Homo sapiens: one gene and its partners. The protein of the gene in region 2 purifies or fractionates together with the protein of the main gene of each other region. This does not show direct contact. Each region holds a gene or a part of one and is shown on either strand. Other genes may lie near its edges. The genes, in order: SLC26A6, DNM3 and HSF2.

Region 1 (3,653 bases), on a different chromosome or scaffold from region 2:
GGCTTAGGCCACAAGCCCGACGGTGTCATCCCCATCCCCCCACAGTGCCTCTCCCTCCCCACCTCTCCTGCCACCACCCAGGCAGGCTTCACAGGCTCTTAACCTTTCTCTTGGGTTTCCAACCCCTGCCTTGTGTTCTGTTTTCTGCACCCAGACAGAGGTCCTCCTAGGCTGTCATATCAATCAGACCTTCCCCGCTCCCACCCCATTCGGGTCACAGCCCGGGTCTCTGCTGGGCTCCAGGCATGCATGGTAAGGGCTGGGCTGCCCCCTCATCCTCTCCCATGTCTCAGACCCCTTAATTCCTCCCCGCACTGCCTAATTGCACTGTGCCCATGTTGCAGGCAACAGCCTTGTTTTATTCCAGAGCCCCCCACCTATGTTCCTAGCACTTGGCCCAAGACCTCTCAGGAGATAAATGGATGACTGAGGACTTAGTAACCCCACTGATCAGATCAGGAAATGCCTCCCTTCCAACCTGGCGCCCCAGGGAGCTGCCATTCCGGCTCTCTGACCCACGGCTGCTCTGCAGGTGGAGCTTGTGCTGTTGACTCCACGACAGACCCCTCCCCAGCCCCAGACCCATCTCTGTCCACTCTCCCTCTGTCCCTTCATACCTCTAGAGGGGGTCATAGACCTAAACTCCTCCCTTGAAATCCCAAAGACCAAAGCCAAAGTATCCTCAGCCCCCAGTTCCCTGGCCAAGTGTGGAACGAATCCACAAAGGCTCATTCTTCCTCCGTCTCCCCATCCACACCATCTCACTCAGCCCCTGACACTCACCTCTGAGTACTCTGCCACATCTCTGTAAATATCCGTGTCTGGCACCTGCCCCAGGACAGAGTAGTGGGGCCTGTGAAGGAGAGAGAGAATGCACGAAGAGGGGGCAGAAAAAGGGGATAACAGAGGGGTCCGAAGGAGCCTGAAGTCCCCAGAGATGTGGGGAAAGCTGCGGGGAGCCCTGTGGTACTCTCTCACTAGCTGGAATGAGGGGACCAACATGGCGGACTCACATCTGTGTCCGGACCACCACGAGCAGCAGGGAGAAGATGACCGCAACCACCAAGCCAAGGTCCAGGTTCAGCAAGATGGTGGCCGTGAAGGTCACCAGCCAGATAAGCTGAGAACAGAGGGCAGCGGTTGGAGGGCGGCGAGGAGCCATGGGGCTGCCCAGTCCCTGCCCTGGGCTCCCAGTGCACTCACCAGATCCGCCCGATTGGCCTTCCAGAGGGAGCGCATGTCGCTGAGCTGCCTCAGCATGCCCTTCAGGTTCACAATGATGATGGCTGCCAGGACCGCCTGGGGTGGGGACAGTGCCACCAGGGGCCATTGAGGGCACCCGATGCTGACAACCCTCCTCACCGAGGCAAAGCCAGACTAAGCCCAAGCACTCAGGCAGTACCCCAGACACAAACCCCCACCCAGCCCCTGACCCTTGTCTCCAAATCTCACCTTGAAGATCTCAGCCTTGAAAAACAGAACCTAACCTTGTGTCCCCACCCCTCGCCTGAACCTAGACTGGCTGATTTGAGAGCCCTGGCCTGGCCAAGACCTGAAACCTGGCTGGGTGGGGGCTCACCTTGGGCAGGTCATGGAAGAGTTCCCCAAGTTTGACAATGATGAGGAGGATGAAAAGGGAAGAGATGGCTCCAGCAACCTGTTCGGGGAGGGAGTGAGCAGGGGAGAGACCTCCTTCCCCAGGCAAAGCAATGTGCATGCCCACACCCATGCCCACACCCAAAGCCCACCTGCGAGTTGCCCCCGGTGCTCTCCTGTACCAGGCTCCGAGACATAGAGCAACTCACGGGGAAGCACTGGAAGATGCCTCCGATAAGGTTACTGAGGCCCAGGGCCACCAGCTCCTGACGGGGGACAGTACGGGTGTGAGAAGACTTCCTAGAAGTGGCTGGTCACTGTTCCACTGTATCTAGGCCTGTGCATCCCCAATCTCCATCCCCACCAAGTGGCCCCCAGAGACTGGATGCTGTCCCACACGTCCTGCTCTCCCACCCTCAGTCCCCCACGTGGCCTCAGCACATCTGCTGTCTCCCTGTGTCCCACCGGTTCCTCCCCCACCCGTTGCTGGCGCCTCCATACACTTGGATGCCTCCTACACATCCCGCATCACCCAGACCTGGTTGCTGTCCACCCGGTAGCCGTGCCTCAGGGCGAAGATCTTCCCCAGTGAGATGGCAATGGCAAACCCAACCACAGCGATGGTGAAGGCGCTGCCCACGAGCTTTGAGAACAGCTGGGTGTTGGGGGCCACTGGGGGCACCAGCCTGTGAGAGGTATCTGTGAGGCCAAAGCAAGGTCCTGTCCTGGCTGCCCAACCCTCCCTGACCTGATGGAGGCCAGAGCTCACCCTGCAGGGATGTTGCCCACGACATCTACCTCAAATCTGTGCTTTAGACCCATGCCATAGGAGATGCCTGTGGCCCCGATGAGCTGTGGGAGAGGACAGAGTCAGGGAGGCAGGTGCTGGCACCATGGTCAGGGGGACACATAAACCACTGTGAGGTGAGGAGGGAGATACTGGGCAAAACCTTCTTCGAGGGTGGGAAAAAGTCACGTAGGGTGAGAGACAGGCAACACCATTTCGGCTATGGGGAGATGCTGTCAGGGGCAGGAAGAAACCAACATAGGGGCTTTCTGCTGTGCCCCCCACAATACCCAAGAACCCTCCCAGCCCCCCTCCAGCTGGCCCTCAAATACAGGAGGCTGCCCACGTGGCAAGGACCCAGCCTGACCTGCCCTTCTCCCCTGCCCTCCACTCCCTGGCCCTCGAACCGTGAGCAGCTCCCCGGGTATCGGCATGGGCAGCTGCTGCTGCAGCTTGTCATTCAACAGCTTCACCACCACGAGCACCACCCCAGCCACAGCTGCAGTGACCACGGTGCCAACCTTGCTCTGGGGCAGCTTCCAGCAGACCTCCAGCACTGTCTGAGGAGAGGCCAGGTCACAGCTAGCACTCAAGGCCATGGGGCACACCTACCCCTCCCTCCCCCTACCCTCACTCACATAGATGAGGGACAGTGGCCCAGAGTGGCTGCTCAGATGGAGGCCAAACACATACTTGAGCTGTGAGACGAAGACCTGCACAGCTGCAGCTGTGGTATAGCCTCGGACAAGAGGTTCTGACAGGTAGGTGACCACGAAGCCGAAGTGGATCAGGCCCAGCCCCACCTGTGGGGCGGCCAGGGGCAGTCAGGAGAGGCAGGGGTCCTGGGGTTGCTAATGAGGAGCGCAGGGCAAGTGGGATGGGAGGGGGATGAGTAGACGGCAAGAGGAGGACGACGATGGTCAGACACTCAGGGGAGTACAGACAGGACAGTGGCGGGAGCAGAAGTGGTGGTGGGGGGCACATACTCCTGACTGTTCCACACCTGGAAGAGGCCAACCAGGACACTGAGTGTGGAGGCCACCTGTACCCGGGCAGCATCTCTGGCTGTCTCATTGATCATGGAGTCGTTCAAGGCCTGCGGGGCCAGGGATTCTGTCACACTGCCCACCATCACAGACATGACAGCAAAGGTCCCTGTAAGGACGGCACGGGGCAGGTCTGAAGAGGAGAGGACACTGCCCTGCCCTGGAGCCCTGGTCTTAAGAGAGAGGCCAGGAGACTTCCAGTTCTGGATAAATGTACTCAGATT
Region 2 (3,653 bases):
CAAAAGACAGAGGGAAACTGTTACTGTCACCAGTACTGGGGATAGAGACAAAACAAAAGTAAACAGACGCTTGGTGCTTCACTTTTCCCAGGGTGGACTTTGGTGGACTTTGGTGGACTTTGTCCAGACTCTGACTGCCACAGCCATGTTTCTACCTCCACTCAGTCACTCATTTATTCCCATTTTTATTTCTCTGTGGTGATCTGACAGGTTAAAGATTTCATAAATTCCGAGCTCCTAGCACAGTTGTATTCTTCAGAGGACCAAAATACCCTGATGGAGGAATCTGCTGAGCAGGCTCAGCGCCGGGATGAGATGCTTCGAATGTATCAAGCACTGAAAGAAGCCCTTGGGATAATTGGGGACATCAGCACAGCCACCGTGTCCACTCCGGCACCCCCTCCAGTGGATGACTCCTGGATACAGCACTCTCGCAGGTAAGAAGATGGCCCCGGCCGGGTGCGGTGGCTCGCTCCTGTAATCCCAGCACTTTGAGAGGCCGAGGCGGGCGGATCACGAGGTCAGGAGATCGAGACCATCCTGGCGAACATAGTGAAACCCTGTCTCTACTAAAAACATAAAAAAAATTAGCCGGGCGTGGTGGCGGGTGCCTGTAGTCCCAGCTACTCGGGAGGCTGAGGCAGGAGAATGGTGTGAACCCGGGAGGCAGAGCTTGCAGTGAGCCGAGATCGTGCACTGCACTCCAGCCTGGGTGACAGAGCAAGACTCCGTCTCAAAAAAAAAAAAGAAGATGGACCCACCCACAACCCCTGAGCCCTGCCACGCTTGTCCAATATCATTTTCTGAGAGTGCTTTCCTAAACCAAGATGGACCTACAGAAAAAGGGGAAAAGATATTTACATTCAGGAGTAAGGATCAGATTATACTAACTCCCTTAAAAATGCAGCACAGTGCATCCTCACAATGGAATGTTATATAGTCACTAAAAAGAACAAGACAGTTCTATTAAGTCCTAAAATGAAAAGATAATCCAGTTAACGGGAAGCTTTAAAAAAAAGGGAGGTTGTATGCCAGGCGCGGTGGCTCACGCCTGTATTCCCAGCACTTTGGGAGGCCGAGGCAAGCGGATCACCTAAGGTCAGGAGTTTGAGACCAGGCTGGCCAACATAGTGAAACCCTGTCCCTACTAAAAATACAAAAATTAGCTGGGGGTGGTGGCGCACACCTGTGATCCCAGCTACTCGGGAGGCTGAGGCAGGAGAATCGCTTGAATTCAGGAGTCAGAGGTTGCAGTGAGCCGAGATCACGCCACTGCACTCCAGCCTGGGTGACAGAGCGAGACTCCGCCTCAAAGAAAAAAAAAAGGAGGTTGTAGAAGACTGTGTTCTATGGTATACAGAAAAGCAATTTATATATAGAGAGAGAAAATATATACTTATACAAATGTAGAATACAGTTAAAAAGGATGCACAAGAAACTTCTATAGTTGTTTCAACAGAGTGAAGGGGTAGGGAGAGGAAAACTTACTTTTCTCCATTTACCCTTTTATCCCTTTGACTTTCATGACATGAATTGGACTTATTCAGTCAAAAAATAATTTTTAAAAAGCAGGAAGTTACAAAACATTTTTAGAGATTAATTCAGACAGAAAGGAGGAGTGAGCAAACTATGATTTCTCTTTTTCCTCAGGTCACCTCCTCCAAGCCCCACAACCCAAAGGAGGCCAACACTAAGTGCTCCCCTCGCAAGGCCCACATCCGGCCGAGGACCAGCTCCTGCCATTCCCTCTCCTGGCCCCCACTCTGGGGCTCCTCCAGTCCCATTCCGTCCAGGCCCATTACCTCCTTTCCCCAGCAGCAGTGACTCCTTCGGAGCCCCTCCACAAGTTCCATCTAGGCCTACGAGGGCCCCGCCCAGTGTCCCAAGGTAAGGCATGGAGCAGAAATTGGGGGGGTAGTGCGCCTTGGTTCTCTTCTCATAGAATGACAGACAAAATTTATTTGAAAGAGAAAATTGCAAAGATCTTATCGTACGTGTTTGCAGTTTTCACAATGAACAGAGACTATAGGAAAATTGCCAACCCTGTTATGCCATTTAAAAATCACTTGTGATCATTGAAATTTCTCATTTATCAATTGGCACAGACTAAATAGGACTAAAGAACACTCCGTCCCAATGAATGACATTTTGGCAGCTATTGGGAGAATTTGAGGGCTTTGAAACAAAAGAGCTATGGAGGATTGTAGCAAGCTGTGTGTTCTATAGGTCATGAGAGTTCCATGGACTAAAGTCTTGCCTTCTCCATTATCAAAAGAATTCTTGAAAACCACTGACTTAGAGAATTTTATCCATCTGCCTTCTGAACTGTGATCCTTATACTCAATTTTACCAATTTTCATATAGGCTGAATAAATCTGGCTGATTGATCTGCAATTGTTTTTTTAAAAACTACACATAGAAATTTTAATATAGGCATGATTGTTGTATACAGTCACTAATCATATATAAGATAGATCATTGTACATCTGAATAATACGTGTTGACAATTATAAGTGGATTTTCAGGCTTAATTGTGAAACAATATAGCTAATAAATAATGGACCTAGAAACACACATAGTTGGAGCTGTAGTCTCACCTTCATATACTTACAGTCAAAATATACACAATGAATAGAATCAGAGATTTTTAAGGTATAAAGTACTAAGGTTTTTTTCCCCCTCAAAATCAGAAATATAAAGAGGAAAGAAAATTAGCCCATATATAAAGTTAATTTTTAAAAAATTCAATTCAGAGAATTAAAATATTTATATACTCCATGAAGGAATATCTGACTGTATATGAACCATAAAAACAGATGTGACTTCTACCCATCCCTGAAGCCTGAGCCACCTTGCCAACTGATTATGGCACTTACGTTTTATTTTAATCTTCAAGTTGTTAAGCGTAATGAAGAGAAGAGAAGAAGGGGGATCTTAAGCTAGTACACAGAGGGTGGTACAGCAAGAATAGGCAGGAGATTTGCAGTCAGAAGACCTGGGTTACTGAAGGTCTTGGGCAACTCATTTAACTCTGAGACGGGAGTTCTTTATCTATGAAACAGGGAGAACTCAATAAGGTTGTTCCCCAGATCATATGACATGAGGTATTTGAAAGAGTTTGATACACTGTAAAGACTACAGTTGTTACCACTGTTATCATTTTGGTCCTAAGCAAAGAGGATATATACACACTCTCAATCCAATTTTTTTTCTCTAAATTCAATAGACTTGGCTTATAAATTATTTGGAATGGTGCTAAATTTCTAGTAATAGCAGTACTAGCAATAGCCAACATTTATTGTGCCCTCAATATTACTAGGCATTGCCCTAAGAACTTTGTATATACATTTTTGTTTAAAGCTCACAACAAATAGGTTGTTATCCACATTTTACAGATGAGGCAGTGAGGTTAAACAGCTTGCCCAAGGCTGCTCAGCCAGTCCCTAGTGGAGCTGGACTTTAATCCCATGCAGTCTGCTTCCAAAGCCATTTCCTGACCATGACCCCAGGGTTTTTCAGCCTCATCAGTACTGACGTTTTTGTTGTGGAGGGCTGTCCTGTGTATTGTAAGATGTTTAGCAGCATCCCTCCCCTCTACCCTCTAGATTTCAGTTGCAGTCCCCAGTTGTGACCACTAAAAATATCTGTAGACA
Region 3 (3,121 bases), on a different chromosome or scaffold from region 2:
ATTTCACAATGAGAAAGGAATGAAGAAAAGTCTTTTAAGGTTTTCTCCTCTCAGTTTCTAAACTCTTATCACCCTTAGAAACATAACCTCTTCAGCTCACGCAGAGCACTGTTGTAGGGTCTTGAATTAATTCACCAAGATCCCACCATCAGAGCCAAGTATTTTAGGATCTAACTAAAACTCTCCTAAGGGAATTTTCCTATTCTTCTGTGCTAGCCCTTACTTTGAATCTTTACATCATAATAAAAGAAATTCTAAGACACTGACAGAATATGGCCAATAGGAAAACCTGCCTTGAAACTCATTAAATAGCCCTATACAATATTAATTGTACTGCTTTCAGCCCTTTGCCCAAAGGTGAAATTCTTCACATGATAAAGTGCCCTGGCCTTGCATTAAGTCTCCATAATTCTCTTGGGCAACTGTTTCAAAGGAAAGAGGTGATTTGACTATTTCTCTTATCTTCTCTCCAGACATCCAGTGATAATATTCTTACACTATTTGGGACAATGAGAGGCATAATTCTCTCACTTTTTTATTAGAAACATAGAAAGCAACCCAGTATAATTTTTAAACAAAGAACTTTAAAATACATTAAATTTAGAGATTATATTTCTCCCTTGTTGCAATATACAATATATTTTCGAGATGAGGCACAAATATCTTGGTATGATTCATATTGAGAATAATGAACCACAGACAGTTTAAAGCTACTGCTTCCTATGAGAAGAAAAAATTGTTTCATGTGAGTGTCACCTCTAAAGAAGACACATAACAGACACTAGTACTCAACATTCATTGTATTTATTTTACTAAACAGTATGGTTCAAAAAAACACAAACCGGAAAACCTTTATTTAAAACTAGTCCAACTAACTGGATGGGGCTCACTCCATCCCATCCCACCCCCGATCTTTCTATATATATGGAGCTGGAACCCTATCAGACAGCGAGCATTCACGTACACTTTGTCTTTCCTGTTGAACATGAATAAACGTCTTTGAACATAAATGAACTTCTCTGAACCAAAAGAAACAAATGAAGTTTTACAAGATACAGGCACTTTATGTTCCCAGTTTTAAAAATAAGCCAAGTGAAAAATATTTAATAAAAATAACTGGAGCAGAGAAAGCTTTAGGAGTTATACCATTAGTTCAAATGACTTACACTCAATGCAAATAGACAGCATCAAACAGGAAAACAAACAAAAATTTAACTGAGGTTAATGGTCGTATTTGTAAAAAAAAGATATCCAATTTACCAAAATTGGAGAAAAATGGCCATTTGAATCCAACTTAAAGATACGCCAATAATGTGCATTACATCTGCGTAACTATGCAGCTGAGTAACACCTGAAAGCTCTGCAAGAGTGTGTGGTTAGTGAGAAAAGCAAAAGGTGCTTTTATTCCACAGTATCTGATTAAACAAAACAAAGCAATTTACAAAAAAAGTACCAAATGATACTTTAAAATAAATAGTTCATCATTTTGATGAATATATACATGTAAAGTCCACTTCCTGGGGATTTAGCTATCTAAAAGTGGCATATCACTATCCAGAGGTGCAGGAGCAAGTTCACATAAATAAAACAGTGTAGCTTCACTAGCTTCAGCTTCAGTCAATGGCTCCAGGCGAACAAGCTTACTTTGGGTTGGTTCTGGGTCTAGGCTGCTATCCAGAAGCTCATCAACTTCTATGGGTTTATCTACAGAGGACAAAACTTCTGATGATGCTGTTGTACTCGCCTGTTCAACAGAAGAAGCAGGGTTCCCATCGAGGAATGCAAGAAGTGGAAAGGCGGTATACTGGATAAGCTGCTTATCTATAAAGATCAGAAAAACACTCTTTTATCACCAGCTTATACTGAGTTCAAGCTGAGGGGAAAAAAATGAAAACAGAGATGTACACATAGGCAATTACTACTCTCATATAGCCAAACAAGAAATGACATGATGCACTATGTCAATAAATTTTAAAATGTGCAAGTCAATAGCTCTTATTCAACAATTAAGAAATGAGGGGTCTTTAGTTTCCTAAAGTTAAATAGGATAAAAAAAAAAAACTTAAAGAATTGTTACCTCACCAATTCAACTTTCTCTATATACTAGAACCTCGACACACTATTCACAGAACTAAAGCCAGCATATTCAATTAAGACTACCCTCGGCTTGCACTTGTTTCTGCATAGGATTAAAAAAACCTACAGAGACTGAATACTATATTTATACCTACCTGGTTTGGATTTAGATTTTCTTCCCTCTTCCGAAACTGGCTGAACTACATTGTTCTTGGTAGTTTCTAATCCTTTATTCTCAGACTAAAAGAAAAAAATATATATATAAGTACTTGTTTCATATTTTATGTTTCTGAAAAAAATGAAAAATTGATACAATATGTAAATACTGGTATATTATCTGAAATATATGAGATGGGGAAACATCAGGGAAAATGGGCTACAGAGAGAGATCTGAGTAGAGATAACAAGACTGGTTAAGGAACTATTGCTGTCACTGAGGGGATAAAACAAAGAACCTGAATTAAGATGTTCTATATTAAGTATGAAATGAAGGGGGATTTCAGCAGCAGAACAGATAGAATTTGTCACGAGTAAAAGATCAGAATGAATCAAAGATGACTGGTTTCAAAATGTTAATTGAGAGATAATTAACTAAGCAATTAAATTCATTTTAAGTAGTTTTGATTTAAAAAATGTATTATACATTTCACTCATAAACAGAATATTTAGCATAAGTGAACATATTTAGAGTAGCTCAGGATGACATAATGACATCCTTAAAACTCTTTATCACTATTTAGAAGCCTCAAAGTTGAGGTGGTGTTTCTTCTTGTCCTTTCTGTAGCTCTGTCAGTTCTTTTCTGTCATTTAAATTGCTTCTTTGAACCACTTTCTTCTCTCCTCACATCTGACTGTGGTAGGGAAATTATATCTTTACCATTGTTAATTTCTTCAGTGCTCCTTTCATGTTCAAACTCTGAGGTGCAGAGGTTCTTAATTTTTCCTGTAAGTCCCAGACATCTGCAAGTCCCAGATCTACATGCTGGCTAAATATATATGGTGTAACCAACTGTAAACTAATTCCAGTAATTCCCCTGATATTTAA

Evidence for each region.
Region 1: the proteins of DNM3 (region 2) and SLC26A6 fractionate together in Homo sapiens (co-fractionation; one large-scale study listed by BioGRID). This does not show direct contact.
Region 3: the proteins of DNM3 (region 2) and HSF2 purify together in Homo sapiens (affinity purification with a luminescence readout; one large-scale study listed by IntAct). This does not show direct contact.

What each region holds. Positions count from the first base shown.
Region 1 is NC_000003.12:48,628,859-48,632,511, forward strand, and holds part of SLC26A6 (solute carrier family 26 member 6), read right to left. Parts: intron 3,539-3,653; coding exon 3,387-3,538; intron 3,235-3,386; coding exon of another isoform or gene 3,187-3,234; coding exon 3,022-3,186; intron 2,944-3,021; coding exon 2,791-2,943; intron 2,449-2,790; coding exon 2,366-2,448; intron 2,283-2,365; coding exon 2,135-2,282; intron 1,863-2,134; coding exon 1,749-1,862; intron 1,658-1,748; coding exon 1,580-1,657; intron 1,300-1,579; coding exon 1,204-1,299; intron 1,121-1,203; coding exon 1,014-1,120; intron 854-1,013; coding exon 784-853; intron 1-783. UniProt on the Homo sapiens protein: Apical membrane anion-exchanger with wide epithelial distribution that plays a role as a component of the pH buffering system for maintaining acid-base homeostasis.
Region 2 is NC_000001.11:172,386,923-172,390,575, forward strand, and holds part of DNM3 (dynamin-3), read left to right. Parts: intron 1-210; coding exon 211-437; intron 438-1,650; coding exon 1,651-1,887; intron 1,888-3,653. UniProt on the Homo sapiens protein: Microtubule-associated force-producing protein involved in producing microtubule bundles and able to bind and hydrolyze GTP. Most probably involved in vesicular trafficking processes, in particular endocytosis.
Region 3 is NC_000006.12:122,430,625-122,433,745, reverse strand, and holds the end of HSF2 (heat shock factor protein 2), read right to left. Parts: intron 2,317-3,121; coding exon 2,232-2,316; intron 1,822-2,231; coding exon 1,526-1,821; 3' UTR 627-1,525; downstream 1-626. UniProt on the Homo sapiens protein: DNA-binding protein that specifically binds heat shock promoter elements (HSE) and activates transcription. In higher eukaryotes, HSF is unable to bind to the HSE unless the cells are heat shocked.